Regions from separate parts of the Homo sapiens genome. Here region 1 is linked to region 2. Evidence: fine-mapped expression QTL. A gene starts in region 2. The other region holds a variant in brackets. All regions are shown on one strand. Distances are from middle to middle. Region 1 overlaps LOC105378618 (a long non-coding RNA gene). Region 2 holds the start of NKAIN1 (sodium/potassium transporting ATPase interacting 1).

Region 1 (9,358 bases), 980 kb after region 2:
AAACCAGCTGTGGGTTTGGAGAGAGATGCGGGGTGGGGGGCGGTGGAGGTGGTGCCACACTGCAGCCTCCTGAGGACCTCACCTCATCATGGCACTCTCCAGTCCTGTACAGGGGTGACCCCAGGGGCCTGTGCAAGTGGGTCAGGTGGAGAGGAAATGGTCTGTTTTGTTGCTCCAGGCCAATTGTAACTGGCAAGTTAACAGCTCACAGCCTGGTTCCGGCACAGCTTCGCCAGTCTTGCGTGGAGCAGTGAACACAGCAGTGCCCGCAGTGCTGCCCACTAAGGTCCTGCAGGGCTTGGGGAGTGGGTGGCCACACCAGGCCACTGACAGAGGACAGAGCCTGGAATCATCTGGCCAAGGAGAGACTCCTTGCCTGGGGGTCAATGTGGGGCTGGACAGGCCATTGTGCTGAGGGACAGAAGCCAGGGGTTGAGGGGAAGAAGTGAGCTCTAGGTGAGAACAGTCAGGGGCAGGATGAAGGGGGGTATCTGCCCACCTGGCCCTTAGCAGAGTAGCTTGTCCTCCCAGGCCACTCAGCCTGGAACATGGGCAAGACACATCATGGCCCTGAATAAATTCTTCCTTTCCATGCTTTAGCAAGTATAATAAGTATACTTATTAAGTATACCTCAAGTGCTTTGAGAAGTATCATTGAATACGTTTTTCTTCAACACTCCAGTCCTCCCTTTTCTTCTCTCCCTTCCTCTCTCTCTGCTTTCTTTTTTTCTCTCTTCCTTCCATGGGGCAGGAAGGTAGCAAGACAGAACCCCAGGCACATGTGTCCACAGGCACACGTATAAGGCTCCACACCTGTGTGCTCACCAGCCGCATGATGGGCCGTGTCCGCCCAGCACCAGCCCCACAGAGCTCAGAGCAGCCCAGGCCTCTTCTCTGTTTTGTTGCTCCCAGAAAATTGGAAAATAAATAAATGTTAAAATAGAATCACAAATACTGGGATATTACCTAAATATTTACATTGTACAAATGAACACTTTTGTCAACAAATATGTGATGTGTGATTTATCAGGTAATCACAAGGTTTATTTTTAAAAAGCTAATTCTTTCCACAGGTGAGGCAGAGTGGATGGGAACCAGGACACACAGAGGAGGCTGTTAGATGAAAGTCTTGCCTTCTTTCCCTGTGCCCCTGAGTCCATGGGAAGAACCTCTTAGTAACAGCACCACAAGGTCACATTTGAGGGCTTGAATGTGGGCCCTGCACACATATGTGCACACATAAACACAGACACATAGGTACACACCTGCATACACACAACCCCCTTGGCAGATAGGCAAGAGGTTACCTGACTTGAATGTCGCTGTGGCAATAACTGCAATGTGATTCTTTTTAGAGATGAAGCTGTCACATGCATTTTATCCTTTCTGAAAATAGGCAAGGTCTGACGGTATCTGGGGGGAAGCTGACACTGGGGAACATCCCAGAGGCATTTCTGCAAATCCTGAATCATGGTGGGTCCCAGGTCCTTCCCCAGGGGCCTATGCAGTGGGTCAGGTGTCAGGGAAATGGCTGCTTCTAGAGGTGCTACTGTGTCCCAGGCACATGGGCTATCCTGTTCACCCCTCACAATGCCCCCAGAGTGGGTCGAATTCTCCCTGTTACTGCAGAGGCATGAAGCCTCGGAGAGGCAGGGGAACTTGCCCTGGGTTACCCAGCAGGGAGTGGAATGGCTGGTCTCTGCTGGCTCTCCCTGATGCTGGTGACAGAGCTTATTACAACTGAGCTTGGGTTGTGAGGCCCCCCATTCTGCTGGCCGCATTACGGGATGTGAGCACAGGATGCAGTCTGCTAAGGGCCGCAGACAGACAGTGGAGAAATGGCTGGGGGAGTGCAGGTATAGGAGATGATGGGCACTGGGGAGGGGGAACAAGGAGGGGATAATGATAAAACTGGGCCTTCGTGGGCTTGAGACAAAGCACAGTCAGTGCCTGATCAATGGCAGGCATTATCAGTGTGGTTATGACTGCCATCATCATCATTTCTGGGGGAAGAATCTTCATCATCATTGATATGGTTTGGATCTGTGTCCCTGCCCAAATCTCATGTTGAAATGTAATCTCCAAGGCTGGAGGTGGGGCCTGGTGGGAGGTGATTGTATCATGGGGGTGGATTTCTCACAAATGGTGAGAGCACCTCTTGGTGCTGTCCTCCCAAAGTGAGTGAGTTCTCACAAGATCTGGTCCCTTAAAAGTGTGATCTGGTCCTTCTCTCTCTCTTGCTCCTGTTCTGGCCATGTGATGTGCCTGCTCCCCCTTCACTATCTGCCATGACTGTAAGTTCCCTGAGGCCTCCCCAGAAGCTGAGCAGATGCCAGCACTATGCTTCCTGTAGAGCCTGCAGAAGCATGAGCCAATTCAATCTCTTTTCCTTCTAAATTACCCAGTCTCAGGTATTGATTTATAGCAATTCAAGAACAGCCTAACACAATTATCATCATTGCTGTCTTCAGCATCATTGTCATCCTCATCTTCATAGTCACCATTGTCTTGGTTTTCATTATTATACTCATGGTGTCATCATCGTCATCATCCTGACTGTTGTCAGTCATCATCTTTGCCATCCTCATAGTCATTACCATCTTAATTACCCCTTAGTGAGTATCACCTGTGTCTTGCCTGTAAGGCTGTTATAATTATCATCCTTGGATTACGGATGGGGAAGCTGAAGCACAGGGAGAGAACAGGACCTGCCCAATGGCCCAGAGCAAGTCAGCGATGGTGTCACCAGCTCAAGTTCAGCTGCTCCCTATTCAGAGGTTGAAAACATGAGAAACAAGGCGCAGCGAAAGGAAAACAGTTTTATTAATTGGAAGCTAGCAATTGGGGAATGGCCAGACTCATGCTTTTAAAAGACCAGTCCAACTTTCTGGGCTGAGTGAGATGGTTTCAGAAGGGAGACATGGTACAGGAAACAGGTGGGAGGGGTGCAGGAAGGTGCAGGTCTGCAGGTCTTGCTCCAAAGGCTTTCTTGAGTAGTCAAGCACCTGGAGGTCCAGTTGGCATCATCTTGACTTCTGCCTATTGGTGGTGGTCTCCTTGTTTGTAAGCCCACTAAGCAAGCTGATTTCATAGCTGGATCTGCAAGCCTGGTTTGTTTCAAAATTAGCCCCTGGAATTTCTAAGCCAGCACATAATGAGATAAGGAGCACTGTTCATGGGAGTACCTGGTGGGTAGGGAAGAAACAAATGTTCTAAAGCACAAGGCTACATTCTGAGATGAAGAAGGACAGGAAAAAATAAGTTCAAAATGCATTTCAAGGCTGAGACACTCAGTTACAATGGATCCAGGATTTGAACCTGTGGTGTCTGTCTCAGGGGTGGCGTTTTCACCCTGTACAATGACAGTACGAGCATGACTGTTCATTGGATGCCTCTGTTTGCCATGAACACCTCCTCCCGGATTGTCTCCAAAGCCCCTGCTGTCCTCCCAGCCCATCTGGCATCCTGGGGACCACTGCCACAGCTGAAGGCCTACTGTGTGTGCTGCATCTGTGTCCTCATACCCTTGTGCTTTTCTGCCTGTGGCTCTCACCTGTGGGTTCCTAGAACCTACAGCCCCTCCAGGAGGTACATCTCATCAGGTCTGTTGTTTTTACAGGGGAGGACTCTGAGGGTCAGAGTGGGAGGGTGACTAAGGCCAACCCCAGATTCTTTATTTTTTATTTTTTGAGACAAAGTTTCTCTGTCACTCAGGTTGGAGTGCAATGGTACAATCTTGGCTCACTGCAACCTCTGCCCTCTGGATTCAAGTGATTCTCCTGCCTCAGCCTCCCCAGTAGCTGGGACTACAGGTGCTCACCACCACCCCCATCTAATTTTTGAATTTTTAGTAGAGATGGGGTTTCACCATTTTGGCTAGGCTGGTCTCGAACCCCTGACCTCAAGTGATCCACCTGCCTTGGTTTCCCAAAGTTCTGGGATTACAGG[C/T]GTGAGCCACTGCACCCGGCTCAACCCTAGAATCTTTCTGGTGCTTGAGGGTGGTTGCAGGGATACAATGTGATGACACAGGAAATCTGGATCTGGCGAAATTGCAACTTCTACGGGAAAGGGCACCATCCCCCGTGATAGAGGAGAAACCAAGGCCGGGAGGGAAGGAGCAGGTAGAGGCTGGACTGTCAGGACTCTCCATTGCCGGCTTCCCCAGGGCGACCTGGAGGGCAGGAGGGCAGACCCAGGAGGTCTCAAGCAGGAACTCTTCCACCTACACCTCTGCCCCTGACTACCTGCCAACTCCCCGACCACAAGCAATTTTCCTGGGGGAAGAAAATGACTTCGCAGTTTTGGCAAGATCTCACTTCCATTAAGTTAAGCATGTAACAGAGTTCTTAGGGTGGAATATGTTTTGTTTAATACCTTGATCTCTCTTGTCTGCTGGAGAAATAAAATCTGTCAAGCCCCTTGAAGCCAACTGTCAAAGTAGAGCATTTTGGGAGGACAGATCTCTCACTCTGATGGCAAAATTCATTTGAAATGATCCTTTAATCCAGTCTCCCTGTGAGACCTGGAGCTGAAATTTTAAAGCCATTTGCCCTAAAGAGTTTCTTTCCATTTCTCCCTGCTGCTTTCTCTCCTGGTACCGACCCCTCCTCCACCTTTAAAAAATAATGCAACAGATTGCAGCCGGCATAATGATAACCATTTGGTTTCTCATACAATTTTTTAGGGGGAAAATGACAGAGCACAAAGCTTTGCCTTTCACTGTCTGTTTAGGGAAGGAAGGGAGGTGATTTGCTGTCAAAGTCAACAAGTAAAGGAGAAGAGGCATGAGGGAGTGGGTGGGATTTTCCAGACCTGAAGTCTGTGTGAGCAGGAGGAGCATCTGGGAGGATAACTGCGCCCTCACCCCTGCTGAAGTGGGGGTGGGAGGAGCTGCCGCTTTTTCTCTGATCTCTGCTCCTTACGCCTGTACCTCCTTCTATCCCGTGTCTGTGTCCCCCTGCCAGAGTCTCAGCCTGCCTTTGGGCTCAGTACTTTACAGGGTACAAAGCATTTCCACATTCACCATGATCATTTATTTGTTAATTGCTCTTTCCTTCCTTCCTTCCTTCCTTCCTTCCTTCCTTCCTTCCTTCCTTCCTTCCTTCCTTCCTTCATATTGTCAAAGTCATGGTGATTGGGTTTCACTATGGGACACTGTCCCATCCCCATGTGATGACTGGGATGTGACCCAGACATAATCTCCACCTTTAGGATTCCAGAGTCTAAAAGGGAAGATGAAGTATGGACAAATGGCTATGATCCTATGAGGCAGATGTGTGCTTGGCACATAGCAGGCACTTCCCTCAGTTAGGACGCGTTGGGCAACATGTAACAGACAACCTAACAACAGTGCTCAAGCGATGAGAAAGTAGAATGCTCTGGCATCGCCACACGTCTGGAGAGAAGTGGTTGCAGCTTAGTCAGATGCGCAGGGATGTTGACAAAGACCCAAGCACTTTCCCTCTTCCATCTTTACCATCCTTGGCTATGTGGGCTTTTTGTCCTTAGCTTGTTGCCTCATGGTTGCAAGATGACTGCTGCAGCTCCAAACATCATGTCTCACGCTACAGCCTTCAAGTCAAGAAGAAGTTTGCAGGGTGAGGCAGAAAAAAATATTTTCCAGAAGCACTCCCTCCACCAACAGATTTCCCCTCATATCTTGGTGGCCAAGTCTGGGCCACACGCTCACCCATAAAATGATCTCTGGAGAAGGGGGATGGGGTGCCTGGCTTGGCTTTACCCCAGGGCTGGAGGGGCCCCCAGGCCTGAGCCTGTGACTGCAGAACAAACACAGGGTTCTGTGAGTGAAGGAGGAGGGGCAGGTCTACTGGGGGGCAGCCCCATGTGTCCACCACCTTCTTGTTGGTGTTTGCTGACAGTTTCCCCCGGCAGTGTGGCGTCTGGGGTAGGGAAAGAAAATCCAGCTCTGAGCCTCCGCCCCTGTGGGCTGTGTGATCTGGGAAGCACTCAACCTCCTCCCCTGTGGAGTGGGGACCATGACAGCACCTGCTGCATAGGGAGGTCATGCAGGTGACGTGGGTCGTGTGTGCAGGTGCCCGGGCTCGTGGGGGTGTTAACACCTGTCAGCTATTGCGGGGATGAGGCCCATCTGTAAAGTGGCCCGTGGTGCCCTCTCTGTCACAGTCCTGGGGGTGACAATAGCAGGAATATCAGTTCATAGGTGCGAGCACTTCCTACGCGTGCTGGGCACCCTGTACTTGCACTCGCTCACCTAATCCTCACAGCTACCTGAGGAAAGAGCCCTTTTCATCCTCATTTTACATCAGAGGAAACTGAGGCTCAGGAAGGGGAACCCAGGTGGAGTGAGGGCAGGTGGGGCTCCAGGGTGCTCAGATTCCAGCTGCTGTGCTCTGACCCACTGCAGGGCCCTGGGTGGAGCTGGCACAGGCAGGTGCCCAGATGACCCCTTCCCACCCTGGGTCCAGGCCAGTGGCTGGGCCAGTCACTGTCCCAACCCTGTTGTCTGTTGCTCCTGGAGCTCCAGGGCCGCAGACCTGCCTGTGATGTGGGGATATTGGTCACCATCCTGGCTGCCCTCCTCCAAGTTGATGAATAAACATATTCTGTGTAATCAATAGTGTCACTGTGTCTTGGTCATGAATTGGCAACTTTCATTCTTTGGGGAAATACACATTAGATACATTTAACATGGAACATAAGCATATGCTAGTGATGGACAACACATTTCACATTTGTATATTTATCAAAATATGCAAAACCCATGTCCACAATTATACACTGGTAGGCACACCAGAGTTTAATAACTGCTTGAGACTCCTCACCAGCACCGTAATGTGAGCTTGGGCACCAAGGGGGACACACGACCCACAACCCAGACCTGCTGCGGGGGAGGGGCTCAGCTGTCACTGCTGTGGGTCCCATGAAGACCTGACCCATCGCTGGCCTGCCCAGTCTTCCTGGGAATTAAAACAATCATGCTAGATGACAGATTCCTACCGGATTTAGGACAAACACTTGCTAGAGAGACTGCCACCAGTCACCCTGGTGACTTGGTTCCGGTTAATGGTCTCCAAGCCCTGGGCACAGGGGAGGAAGGCAGTATAGCCTCCTGGTTAAACCACAGGCTTTGGCCTACACAGGTTTCCAGCCCTGGCTCTTCCACTTACCTGCTGTTAGAGGTCGGGAAGCTCACTTAAGCCCTCTGAGCTCAGTCCCCTCATATGTTAGCTGAGGATAGTAGTAGCATCTACCTTATTGCGTAGGGGCTAGAAGTAAATGTGGCAACACAAGTAGCAAGCTCAGTGAGGATTCTTAGTCTTGCGGTTCAGTTGTGTCAGGACCGTGGTTCTCTGGCCCCATGGCTGTCCAGGTGGGCAGCTCCTCCAGCAACTGGAGGGCCCTGGCCCCTCTGGGTCCCTCACCATTGGAATAGTTAGAAGAAAATGAGCCCCAGGCCCCACTAACTTGGGTTCACATTCAGCCTCCAGCCCTCACTCAACATGTGACTTGGGAAGTGGCTGAACCTCTGTGAGCCCCATCGGTTTTTCCCTCTATAAATGGACACACACTATTGACCACCTAGAGCTATTGCGAGGATGTGACGAGGGTACATCAGCTGGAGGCAGATTCCTGGGCTCAAGTGACATTTTAGTGCATACTTGTGGGTGGGACTCTGAGCAAAACACAGTGTCTCTGTTCCTTGGATCCTCATCCTTCACATAGAGATTGGGAGTCTCTACTGCGTAGGATGCTGCGGGGACTCCAGGAAAGAGAGCTCTCAATGTATGCTAACTGGCATTGCTATACTTATTATTATTATTATTCTACTTGTAGGCAAACACCCTATCTTGTCTTTATGTATCAAGCCCCTGGCACAGGGTCCGGGCATAGTAAAGACTTGAGGCTCACCGGAGCAGGAAGAGCAGGGACCCGGAAGCAGTTTGCCTGGGTTTAAAGTCTGGCTCCGTCACTTCTGAGCTGTGAGATCTTGGAAAATTCCTAATCATCTCTGAACTTTGGTATCTTCATCTTTAAAATAGAGGAGAGGGGTGAATGACAACAGGGTCTCCTTCATGGAGTTGTTGAAATAATTAAGTAAACTAATGCATGAAAAGTGCTTAGCACTGTGCCTGCCACACAGTAAGTGCCAAGACAGTGCTAGCTTCAATTCTTCCAGGATTTGAAGGAGCGTTGGTGTTGAGCAGCCTCTAAAGTTCTCCCTTTTTGCCACTACTGCACTTTGAGATGAAGAAATTGAGGCCAAGAGACATTAAATTAAACGTTTGGCAACAAGGCAGTATATAACTGTGCTAAATTATGCAGGGCAGACAGAGAACAAAATGATCAGTAATAAAAGGATAATTGCGGGGGACAGGTGCTAATGGACCAGGAGCCTGAGAAGAAGGAGAGAAAAATGCAGCCTGGGATGAGGATGGCCTCGGCCAGGGCCCAGGTGTTAATGACATTGATCTTTCCCCTTAACATAACCATGCATCCTCACTGTGAAGCATTTGGCAAGTGCAGGCGTTTATACAAGAGAGTATATAATTCATCTGGTATCTTGCCTTCCGGAGATAGTAGTTTTTACATATTAATACCTTTCTTCATTTCTTTTTCTATTCATATACAAGTACATATTTTCATAACTGCTTTCAAATGGGTGTGACTGTCTAGATAGGTTAGAACATGATGCAATAACAAACAAATCTCTTGGAAACAACAAAGTTTAAAATAGCCTGCTATAAGGAGATGATGAGTGGAATATTACAAAGTTTTAAAAACTAATGATGCCTAATATTTATGGAGCGAATAACCCTTATGTCCCATTAGCTTGATCTTAATGTAAATCCAGGTCCAATCTTCTCTCCCTCTCCAGGCTCCCACCCAGATCCCAAGGTCATCATGCTTGGACTGGTGCAGTAGCCTCCTGATGGGTCCCTGGCTCTACTCACTCCCCGCACAGCAGCCCCTGTGACCCTGTGAGACTCAAGGTGGAGCCCTCTCTGCTCTGCTCTGGACACCCCAGGCTCCTGCCTCACTGGGTACATCCAAGCTGACAGTGGCCCCGGCCCAACAGTCCCCAGCTTCACCCCCACTTGGCCCATCTCACCCCCTCCTTCTGCTCCCCTATAGCCCCCTCTGCTCCTTCCTGGACCCGTGGTCCTCACAGTTCCTGCCTCCAGCCTCCGTCCCTGTGCTTTCCTCAGCTGGAACCTCTCCCATGTCTACCCACTCCCTCACTTTCCTCCTCAGGTTCTTGTCCCAGTGTCACCTGCTCTGAGAGCCCTCCCTAACCTTCTCCCCACACCATTGACAGTGCTAGGAATCTTGCTACTTTGGTGGGGAGCTGGCATCTCCGTAACCAACTATTTACAAG
Region 2 (9,358 bases):
CTGACCTCTGAGAATGGGGGGTGGTGCTGAAGATTGAGCTATATGAAAACTCTTGAACAATGAGATTCAGAGAGCTGGGTTGGTGAATGCATCCACAGGCCAGGAGGGTGATGCTCCCTGACTCTTCAGGGACAGAAACTCCTGCACTTGGGACTCTTCTGGACCTCACCCTGTATACTTCTTCATCTGGCTCCTCATTAGTATCCTTTAAAATAAACAGACAAACGTAAGTAAAATGCCTTCCTGGATCCTGTGAGCCATTCTAGCAAACTATTAGAACTGAGGAGGGGATAGCAGGAACCCCCAATTTATAGCCAGTTTATCAGCAGTATAGCTGGGTGGCCAGAGACTTGTGACTGGTCTGAAGTAGGGGCAGTCTTGAAGAACTGAGTCCTTAACCTGTGGGGTCTACACTAACCCCTAATAGCTAGGGTCAGAATTGAACTGGATTGCTGGCCACCCAGTTGGTGTGAAGAATTTGGCTGATGTCAGAAAATATCCCAGAGGCTGTAATTAGTGAGCATGTTCAGTCCTCTAACTTGAAAGCAGGGAAATTATTATGTTTAACAACTCAGCTATCTTATAAGTGAACTTTCTCAGAAGCCTTTAGTGTTTTAACCCACAGAGAGACTAATGGTGGAAGACTGAAACACTGACAAGCCTTGGTTCAGGGCAGGGGAGAAAGTTCTTAACCCTCTAGAAATCTCATCACCTCAGCAGAACCCACCATGCTTCTCTCCGGGCTGACCATGCCTCTGTCTTCTCGCTCAGGAAGTGTGGATATATTCTGAATCATCTCTCTCCTTTATTTCCAAACCCTGCTTCATTCTCCCCACAGCATTTCTTTGGCCCAAGGGTTAGTCATCCTTCAAGGTGAATATTGATGTCATCCCCAGCTCCTAGCCCCTCCAACTTCTTGCCAAAGATGTTTCTATCTGTTCCTACAGTTAGGCTGTCTTCCTCCGTAGAACCCTGACTTCCAGGTGGTAAAGAGGGCACAAGATATGCTGGGCACTGAAGCAGGAACGACAGGAGTGCTGGGTGTGCAATCATTCATTTGCTACACATTTGCTGATTCCTGCCCTGATCCTAGCCCTGTAGGATGTAGAGATAATTTATGACGTAGTTGCTTAAGAGTGGAAGTATGAGAGGGCATCCTGTGTGCGTGAATTCGTCAGGGCAGCACTTGCGGGAATGAGCCAGGGGCAGAGGTTAATTCTACTGAGGTCAGACAGGCCATCCCCACTCCCACAGGACAGACTTATGAGTGAGTCAGCCAGGCCTTGGAATAGAGGTTACAGGCATGACCAGATATAGTCAAGAGCCGGCAGGGGTGGTCAGAGCCCCAGTGGGAATCCACTGTTACTATAGGAATTAAATGAGATAATGCATGTAGAAGCTTGGCTCAGAGTAAACACTCAATAAATGGTAGCTATTATTGTCTTTTTGTTATTGAGTTGCATTGTTAGCCTCACAGAGGTAACTGGCAGAGATTATATCTGGAAGAGGCCCAGCAGAGGATCTGGTAGAGAACGTTACATCTGGGCTGAGCCTTTGTGGAGGTGGTTCTATTCTTTTGTGGGAAATGGACTCTTTGGAGAACCTGACGAAAGCTGTGCCTCTCCCCAGAAAAAGGCACAGCTGCTCACATGATGCTTTGCATATTATTTCAGGGACTTCACAGACTCCTGGAAGCCTGTCTAGTCACGGAACCTGGTTGGACACAGCTGTTATTTGCCAAGCATGGCTGAGAAAATTTCCTGCTGTTCTGCCAGGCACTGTGGCTCACACCTATAATCCCAGCACTTTTGGAGGCCGAGGCAGGTGGATCGCTTGAGCCCAGGAGTTTGAGACCAGCCTGGGCAACATGGCAAAACTCTGTCTCTACACAAAACACAAAAATTAGCCAGGCATGGTGGTACACGCCTGTAGTCCCAGCTACTCGTGAGGCTGAGGTGGGAAGATCAAATGAGCCTCGGAGGTCAAGGCTGCACTGAATTGTGATCTCTCCATTGCACTCCAGCCTGGGCGACAGAGCGAGACCCTGTCTCAAAAAAAGAAAAAGAAAAGAAAAGTTCCCACTATTAGCTTATTGACCCAAGTGAAAACTTCAGCACACATAGGATATTCAACGGTGGGGATATTCTGTGTCTTTTAAAATACAAAGTGGTATCCTGCAGAATGGGTGGAAGAGGGAGACCTGTGAAGAGACCCATCTTTTTTTTTTTTTTTTGAGGCGGAGTTTTGCTCTTGTCACCCAGGCTGGAATGCAGTGGCACGATCTTGGCTCAGTGCAACCTCCGCCTCCCGTGTTCAAGTGATTTCTCCTGCCTCAGCCTCCTGAGTAGCTGGGACTACAGGCGCCTGCCACCACATCAAGCTAATTTTTTGTATTTTTAGTAGAGACAGGGTTTCATCATGTTGGCCAGCCTGGTCTCAAACTCCGATCTCAGGTGATACACCCGACTCAGCCTCCCAAAGTGCAGGGATTACAGGTGTGAGCCACCACGCCCGGCCAAAGAGACCCACCTTAAAGTCCAGGGAGAAGACACAATTGGCTTCATGGGCATGTGACCTCTGCAGTCACACAGGACCCTGCATGTTTTGTTTTCTGTTCTTTGTTTTTTTGAGACACCGTTTCACTCTGTCACCCAGGCTGGAGTGCAGTGGCACAATCTCAGCTCACTGCAACCTCCATCTCCTGGGTTCAAGCAATTCTCATGCCTCAACCTCCCAAGTAGCTGGGATTGCAGGCACATGCCACCACGCCCAGCTAATTTTTGTATTTTTTTAATTTTTATTTTTTGAGATGGAGTCTCACTCTGTCACTAGGCTGGAGTACAGTGGCGTGACCTTGGATCACTGCAATCTCCGTCTCCTGGGTTCAAGCGATTCCCCTGCCCCAACCTCCCTAGTAGCTGGGATTACAGGCATGCACCACCACGCCTGGATAATTTTTTGTATTTTAGTAGAGATGGGGTTTCACCATGTTGGACAGGATGGTCTCGATCTCCTGATTATCTGCCCGCCTTGGCCTCCCAAAGTGCTGGGATTACAGGTATAAGCCACCACGCCTGGCCTAATTATTGTATTTTTAGTAGAGATGGGGTTTTGCCATGTTGGCTAGGTTGATCTTGAACTCCTGACCTTAAGTGATCCGCCTGCCTTGGCCTCCCAGAGTCCTGGGATTATAGCGTAAGCCACAGCGCCCGGCCCCCTGCATGTTCTTGACTTCACGCTCTGCTGTGTTGCCATCTTGAAATTCTTAATTTTTTTTTTTTTTTTAGATGGAGTTTTGCTCTTGTTGCCCCAGGCTGGAGTGCAGTGGGGTGATCTCAGCTCACCACAACCTCTGCCTCCTGGGTTCAAGCAATTCTCCCACTTCAGCCTCCTGAGTAGCTGCGAATTACAGGCATGTGCCACCACACCTATCTAATTATTTTTTGTATTTTTAGTAGAGACAGGGTTTTTCCATGTTGGTCAGGCTGGTCTCGAACGCCTGACCTTGTCATCTGGCCAGGCCTCCCAAGTGCTGGGATTATAGGCATGAGCCACTGCGTCTGGCCGAAATTCTTAATTTTTTAACAAGAAGTGCTGCATCTTCATTTTGTGCTGGGCCCCCCAAACTATGTAGCCAGTCCTGGAAGAAAACAGTGACACATTTATTTGCATGCTTACTATGTGAGCAGCAAACAAGTGACAGTGCTGGAACCGGGACCCAGGCCGTTTGGGTCCAAAACCACGGGTCCTAACCTACATCTTACCATACTTCCTGTCTCTCGAATCAAGAGGGCTAGTGAGAGTGGAGAGGAAGGGAAAGAATAAGAACCTTCTGTTTCTTCCACCAGAACACTCTTCACTCCCCTGCCTCTCCTTCCTTCCTATTGTCGTCTCAGTATCAGTTTCGTTTCCTCAAAGAGGTGTTTCCTGGTCCCCAAACCTAAATTATGCCCCTCTCATTCTCTCTTTTCTCCCTTAGTATTTTATTTATTATTTATTTATTTTGACAGAGTTTCGCTTTTGTCGCCTAGGCTAAAGTGCAATAGCATGGTCTTGGCTCACTGCAACCTCCACCTCCCGGGTTCAAGCGATTCTCCTGCCTCAACCTCCTGAGTAGCTGGGATTACAGGTGCCTGATACCATCCCTGCCTAATTTTTGTATTTTTAGTAGAGATGGGGTTTCACCACGTTGGCCAGGCTGGTCTCGAACTCCTGAACTCAGGTGATCCACTCACTTTTGGGAGGCCGATCTCCACTCAGGTGGAGGTTGCAGTGAGCTGATTCAGCCTCCCAAAGTGCTGAAATTACAGGTGTGAGCCACCGTGCCACGTTTCTTCTTTAATATTCTTTAGAGTATTCATCAGAACTTTGCGTATTTATTTGTATATTTCCTTGTTTTAATGACAATCCCTCACTAGACTGTGTGCTCAATGAGGGCAGAGATTTTGTCGGGTTTTGTTCCCTTATCCCCAGCAGAGAACCTGGCACATAGTGGGTATTTCATAAATGTTAGTTGGAAAGTACAGTTTATAGAATGTAGTGACAGATCAGATGTAATTGTAGGGAAGCCTGGAGGATGACCTAGGAAATTCCACTTGGGTGATGCTAATTGCCAAGGTGAATATAGGAAGTTAGGAGTGGGACAGGAATGATTATGTGGATTTGAGATGTGTCCAGTTCGAGGGCTTTTGGGGGTGGCTTGGAGAAGGCAATCTTCTGCTGGGAAACTTCTGACTCTGTCCCTACTGCAGCCCAGGGTAGGGGCTCCCTACCTCCACCTGGGCAGATCTCTGCCATCACCCATCTCACTGGCGTGCTCTTGGGAGCCTATCTGTTCCCTGGGCGGTGCAGCTCTACGGGATTTGGAACAGTGTTGCAGGTCTCATCTCTGGCTCGCAGGGCCCCCAGGGGTGTGTATGCAGTCAGGGCTCAATAAATGCCAGTAGACGGAAAGAAGGAAGGCGAAAAATGTGGCCAGACACTCAGGGGAGAGGCTGGGGTGAGGAGCAGATCTGGGAACGTAAATAGAACTAGAAGTCCAAGTTGGAACCCTGGAGCCCTAGAGACAGGGTGGACAAAAAAGTGTTCCAAGCCAGGAGGCCAGGCACAGGGCTAAGCGCTTTATTCACATGACTGCATTTCATCTTCATATCTACACTAAAGAGGCATAATTATTCCTACTTTGTTCATGAGAAAACAGGTCCAGAGAGGTGACGTGATTTGCCCAAGGTCACACAGCGAGTGAGCAGCAAAGTCTGGATTTGACTCAGGGCTGTTGTCCCCTAAGCCCGCACGCACTCTTCCACTTCACTCCCTGCCTCTCCAACCCTCCACCTCCCTATCCCTCTCCCCTCCCCTCCGGCGGCTCCCCCGCCCCACCCCTCTGCCGTTCCCCCCAACTCCCTCCCTGTCGGTGGCGGCGGCGGAGCCACGTGGTGGGGCCGGGAAGCCGCGGCCGACGAGAGCCCGGGCGACTGCCCCAGCTGGGCAGTGCTGCTCTGCGCTGCGCCGCGCTCGGGGCTCGCTCTCCTTGCTCCGCGCTCCCCGCCAGCCGCCCCGGGGCAGGAGGCGCGCCTGACGGACGGCCCGCTAGACAAAGGAGGCGCGGCTCGGCGGGGCCAGCGCGCGGACGGACGGACCATGGACTCGGAGCGCGGGCGGCCGGCCCCAGCCTTGGGGACCGGACACTCCCGGGCCCGGCCCTAGGCGCCCGGCCCCGCCGCCCGGCGCGCCCAGCGGGGAGGACGTGGAGCCCGCGCGGCGCGAGCAGGCGGCGGCCGCGGAGCAAGAAGGGCGCCGCGGCGTGCGGCCCGCGCAGCCCCCGGAGCCATGGGCAAGTGCAGCGGGCGCTGCACGCTGGTCGCCTTCTGCTGCCTGCAGCTGGTAAGCGTCGCGTGCCCAGGCAGTCGGGGCAGGGTGGGGCGCGGCGGGGCGCGGTCCCAGGGCGTGCGGGTGGGGTTGCGTGTGTCTCTGTGTGTGTGTCTGGTGCGTGTGCCCGGGCGGGGGGTGGTCTGGAGTCTCGGAGCGGTCGGGCGGAGCCTGCTCCCGCTGGCCGGGCTGTCTCTTTGTGTGCGCTTCTCGCTGCTGTGCCCGGCGCTCCTCCGGTCCCCAAGTGCGTCCTGTGCGCGAGTCCCCGGCCCGCCCGCACTGTACAAGTGGCCTCCTGTTGGGGGATGCGCTGTGGGACGGTGGCTTGCTGGGACTGGGGGTGTGTCTGAGGCTGATCTGTGGATCCGTTGAGGTCCTGCTGTGTGTTTCCCTCTAGATCCCTCGTTTGCATGGGTCTCTCCCTTCCTCTGGGTCTCTGCCTCTGATCACCACCCCTGTGTGAGCGTTTCTCACAAAGTCTCTGCTCCGGCGTGTGTCTCTCAGGGTTTCTCTTTGGTGTGTCTCTAAATCGCTGACCATTTCTGGCCCATGTTCATCTGTGTTCTGGGATCTTAGACTCCAAGAACCCTCCAATCCTTTGTGTTGTTTCTGCCTCCCTTCACCTTCCTGACCGGGCAGTCCTGGGAAAGGAGAGCCACCTCCCTGGAGAGGGTCACCAGGAGCTGCCAGATCCTGGGCCAGCCTGACCCAGCCTGGACCACACTTCCTGCTTTGGTCTGGCCGCTGTGGCCATGGGGGTTCCATCAGTCATCAGTTCCACCCACCAGAGCAGCTCCTCTGCCGGGGCCAGCAACAGTGGGGATGGGGACACTTGGGTGCCCTAGGGAGGACCAGAGCATCTGAGGACACTGTGCCTAGCCCCAGCATAGGGAACTCAGGTTCTTGTCTCAGGGAGGAGTGACTGTAGTGGACTAGAAGAAACAGCACTGCCCTTCAAATCAGGCCCTGGCAGGGGAATTTGGGAGGGTGGTTAAGGAGAGGCAGGGGTCTCCTACCTACCCTAGAGCTGAGATTGAACAACTAGGGAGGTTGAAGCTGTGCTTCTCCTCTAGGCAGAGGTGCATGGGGACCTCCATCGCCGAACCCAGGTCTGAGAGTGGGCAGCGAGGAGCCTGAGCCCCCCTCATGCTGGACTCCTTGTTCTGGGTTTCCACTCTTGCCTGCATCCATCACGCCCTCCCCACCACAGGAGCCAATGATAATGTAGAGTGAAGTTTTGAGCCTGGACATGCAGACCTCCTCATTCGTCTTGCTTCTCTCCTCCTGGGGACACCAGCTTCAAACATGCCATCCACAGACCTGGCCTGGGCAGTGGTGGAAACAGCCCTAGCTCTGGAGATTGTAGCCCTGCTCCCAGCTGTGGGAGACTGGACAAGTGACTTCCCCCCACTGGCCGGCCTCAGTCTTCTTATCTGTAAAATGATTATCCCTGAGGATTGCAGAGGGAATTAATTAAGATCAGGTGGAATGGGAACTCCAGAAGGGCAGAGATTGTCTGTTTTTCTTTATCTACTTTGAGGAACATGAAATGCCAAGAAATGTTTAAACCTTTCAGAGGATTCTTCTGTGTTTGTTAATTTTTTAATTTTAAACTAGGGGTTTTTTTTAATTAGAAAAGTAATATACATATATTGTAAAAAATAAATACATACATAATCAAACAGGACAGATAAATAAAAAGTAAGTTTTCTAGGCCAGGCATCGTGGCTTATGCCTGTAACCCCAGCACTTTGGGAGGGCGAGATGGGCAGATCACCTGAGGTCAGGGGTTCGAGACCAGCCTGGCCAACATGAAGAAACCCCATCACTGCTGAAAATACAAAAATTAGGGGTGGTGGCACGCATCTGTAATCCCAGCTACTCGAGAGGCTGAGACATGAGAATCACTTGAACCCAGGAGGCGGAGGTTACAGTGAGATGAGATCACGCCGCTGCACTCCAGCCTGGACGACAGAGTGAAACTGTGTCTCAAAAAAAAAAAAAAAGTTTTCTTCTCTCTATAACTAGACCCCTCCCCAAAGGTGAACCTGTTAGCAGTTTGTCCCATGCTCATTCTCTGTTGGCGATAATAACGGTTAGCTTTGGAGAGCCCTTGACTAAGTGTCAGGTACTCTTGGAAGCACTTTTCCAGGTATTAACTCATTTAATCCTAACAGCCCTATGAAGTAACTTGTCCAGAATTCTACAGGAACTAGGACCCAGGCTTTGTTTTGGGGGTTTTGTTTTTGTTTTTGTTTGAGACATGGGCTCACTCTGTCATCCAGGACAGAGTGCAGTGGTGCAATCATAGCTCACTACAGCCTTGACCTCCCAGGCTCAAACAATCCTCCCACCTCAGCCTCCTGAGTACCTGGGACTACGGGGGCACACCACCATGCCTAGCTAATTTTTTTGTGTTTTAGAGGTGGGTCTCACTCTTGTTGCCCAGGCTGGTCTCAAACTCCTGTGGTCAAGCCATCCTCCCACTTCAGCCTCCCAAGTGCTGGGATTATAGGCATGAGCCACCACATCCAGCCAGGATCCAGGCTTTGAATCCAGGCAGTTGGCCAGGTCCTCTGTTGCCTTCTTAATTATAAAATAAGTAGTTCTGGCCCTGGTAAGTCTGGGGCCCCATGGAAGGAGCTCATGGCTCTAGAGAGAAATGAAGGTGGTAGAGTGTCTCTCTGCCTCCCACTTCCCTTCCTCCATAGTTCTCCCTTGCTAAGCTAACCCCACTCTTCCACTTAGAGGAGCTCACCAGCACTAGAGGCTTGAGTTAGATGAGACCTGGGTGGCATTCTGGTTTCTCCCACATCCCGGCTGGGTGGCTTTGGGCAGCTTGTGAAGGTTGCACAAGATCATTTGCGGGAGGAACTTGAAAATTGCTCTCTTGGCTCTGTTGCACTATCTGGGCTCATTGCAGAGTGGGCCCTCCAGTTGTCACTAACCTCCATGAGCCCCTACTGCCTGATAGCTTCCATAATGTGCCCCGGGATGTTGGAATTCACCAGCCTGAGGGGAGAAGGGAGTCTTGGTTTTCTCATCCAAGGGACTGAAGGGAAAAAAGAGGCTGTTAAATATCTTTCAGCTGAAAACTTAGGAGGAACTGTGTCATTTTTCTTTCTCAAATGGAGTTTAATCGTTACAATGAATCAGGCCAATTCGAAACATTCTTCCTCAGTTGGGATAGATGTGATTTGGGTGAGGGAGTGAGGTGTGAGGGTGCCATGGGGTTTAAGGGAAGCAGGTAGGGACTGTGCCTTTCAGATGGATAAGTGTAGGATAGTAGTTAAGGCTCTGAAGTTTGACAGGACAGACCTGGCTTTTAGACCTGGTTCTGTCACTTCCTGGCTATGCAATTTTGGGCAAGTTGCTTACCGTCTCTGAGCCACATAGTTTTGTCATCTGTTAAATAGAGAGAATATAAAACAGTTCCTAATCCTTAGGGTTGTTGTGAGGACTCAGTCCATATAATGAATTTAGCACTCTG

Evidence for each region. PIP is the estimated chance that this variant, and not a neighbour inherited with it, causes the effect.
Region 1: its variant is fine-mapped to the expression of NKAIN1 in nucleus accumbens (GTEx, PIP 0.97).

The regions. Positions count from the first base shown.
Region 1 is chr1:30,254,631-30,263,988 of GRCh38, reverse strand. It overlaps LOC105378618 (a long non-coding RNA gene), which reads right to left. Exons shown (of 3, transcript XR_947130.3): 2 at 7,891-8,010; 3 at 2,801-3,185. Among named protein-coding and RNA genes, the nearest start is that of LINC01648, 220 kb to the right of the region's middle. RefSeq lists an enhancer at 5,422-6,189. The variant C/T (reference allele first, on the strand shown) is at 3,949.
Region 2 is chr1:31,236,019-31,245,376 of GRCh38, reverse strand. It overlaps NKAIN1 (sodium/potassium transporting ATPase interacting 1), which reads left to right and starts at 5,490. Exons shown (of 7, transcript NM_024522.3): 1 at 5,490-5,883. The coding sequence starts at 5,830.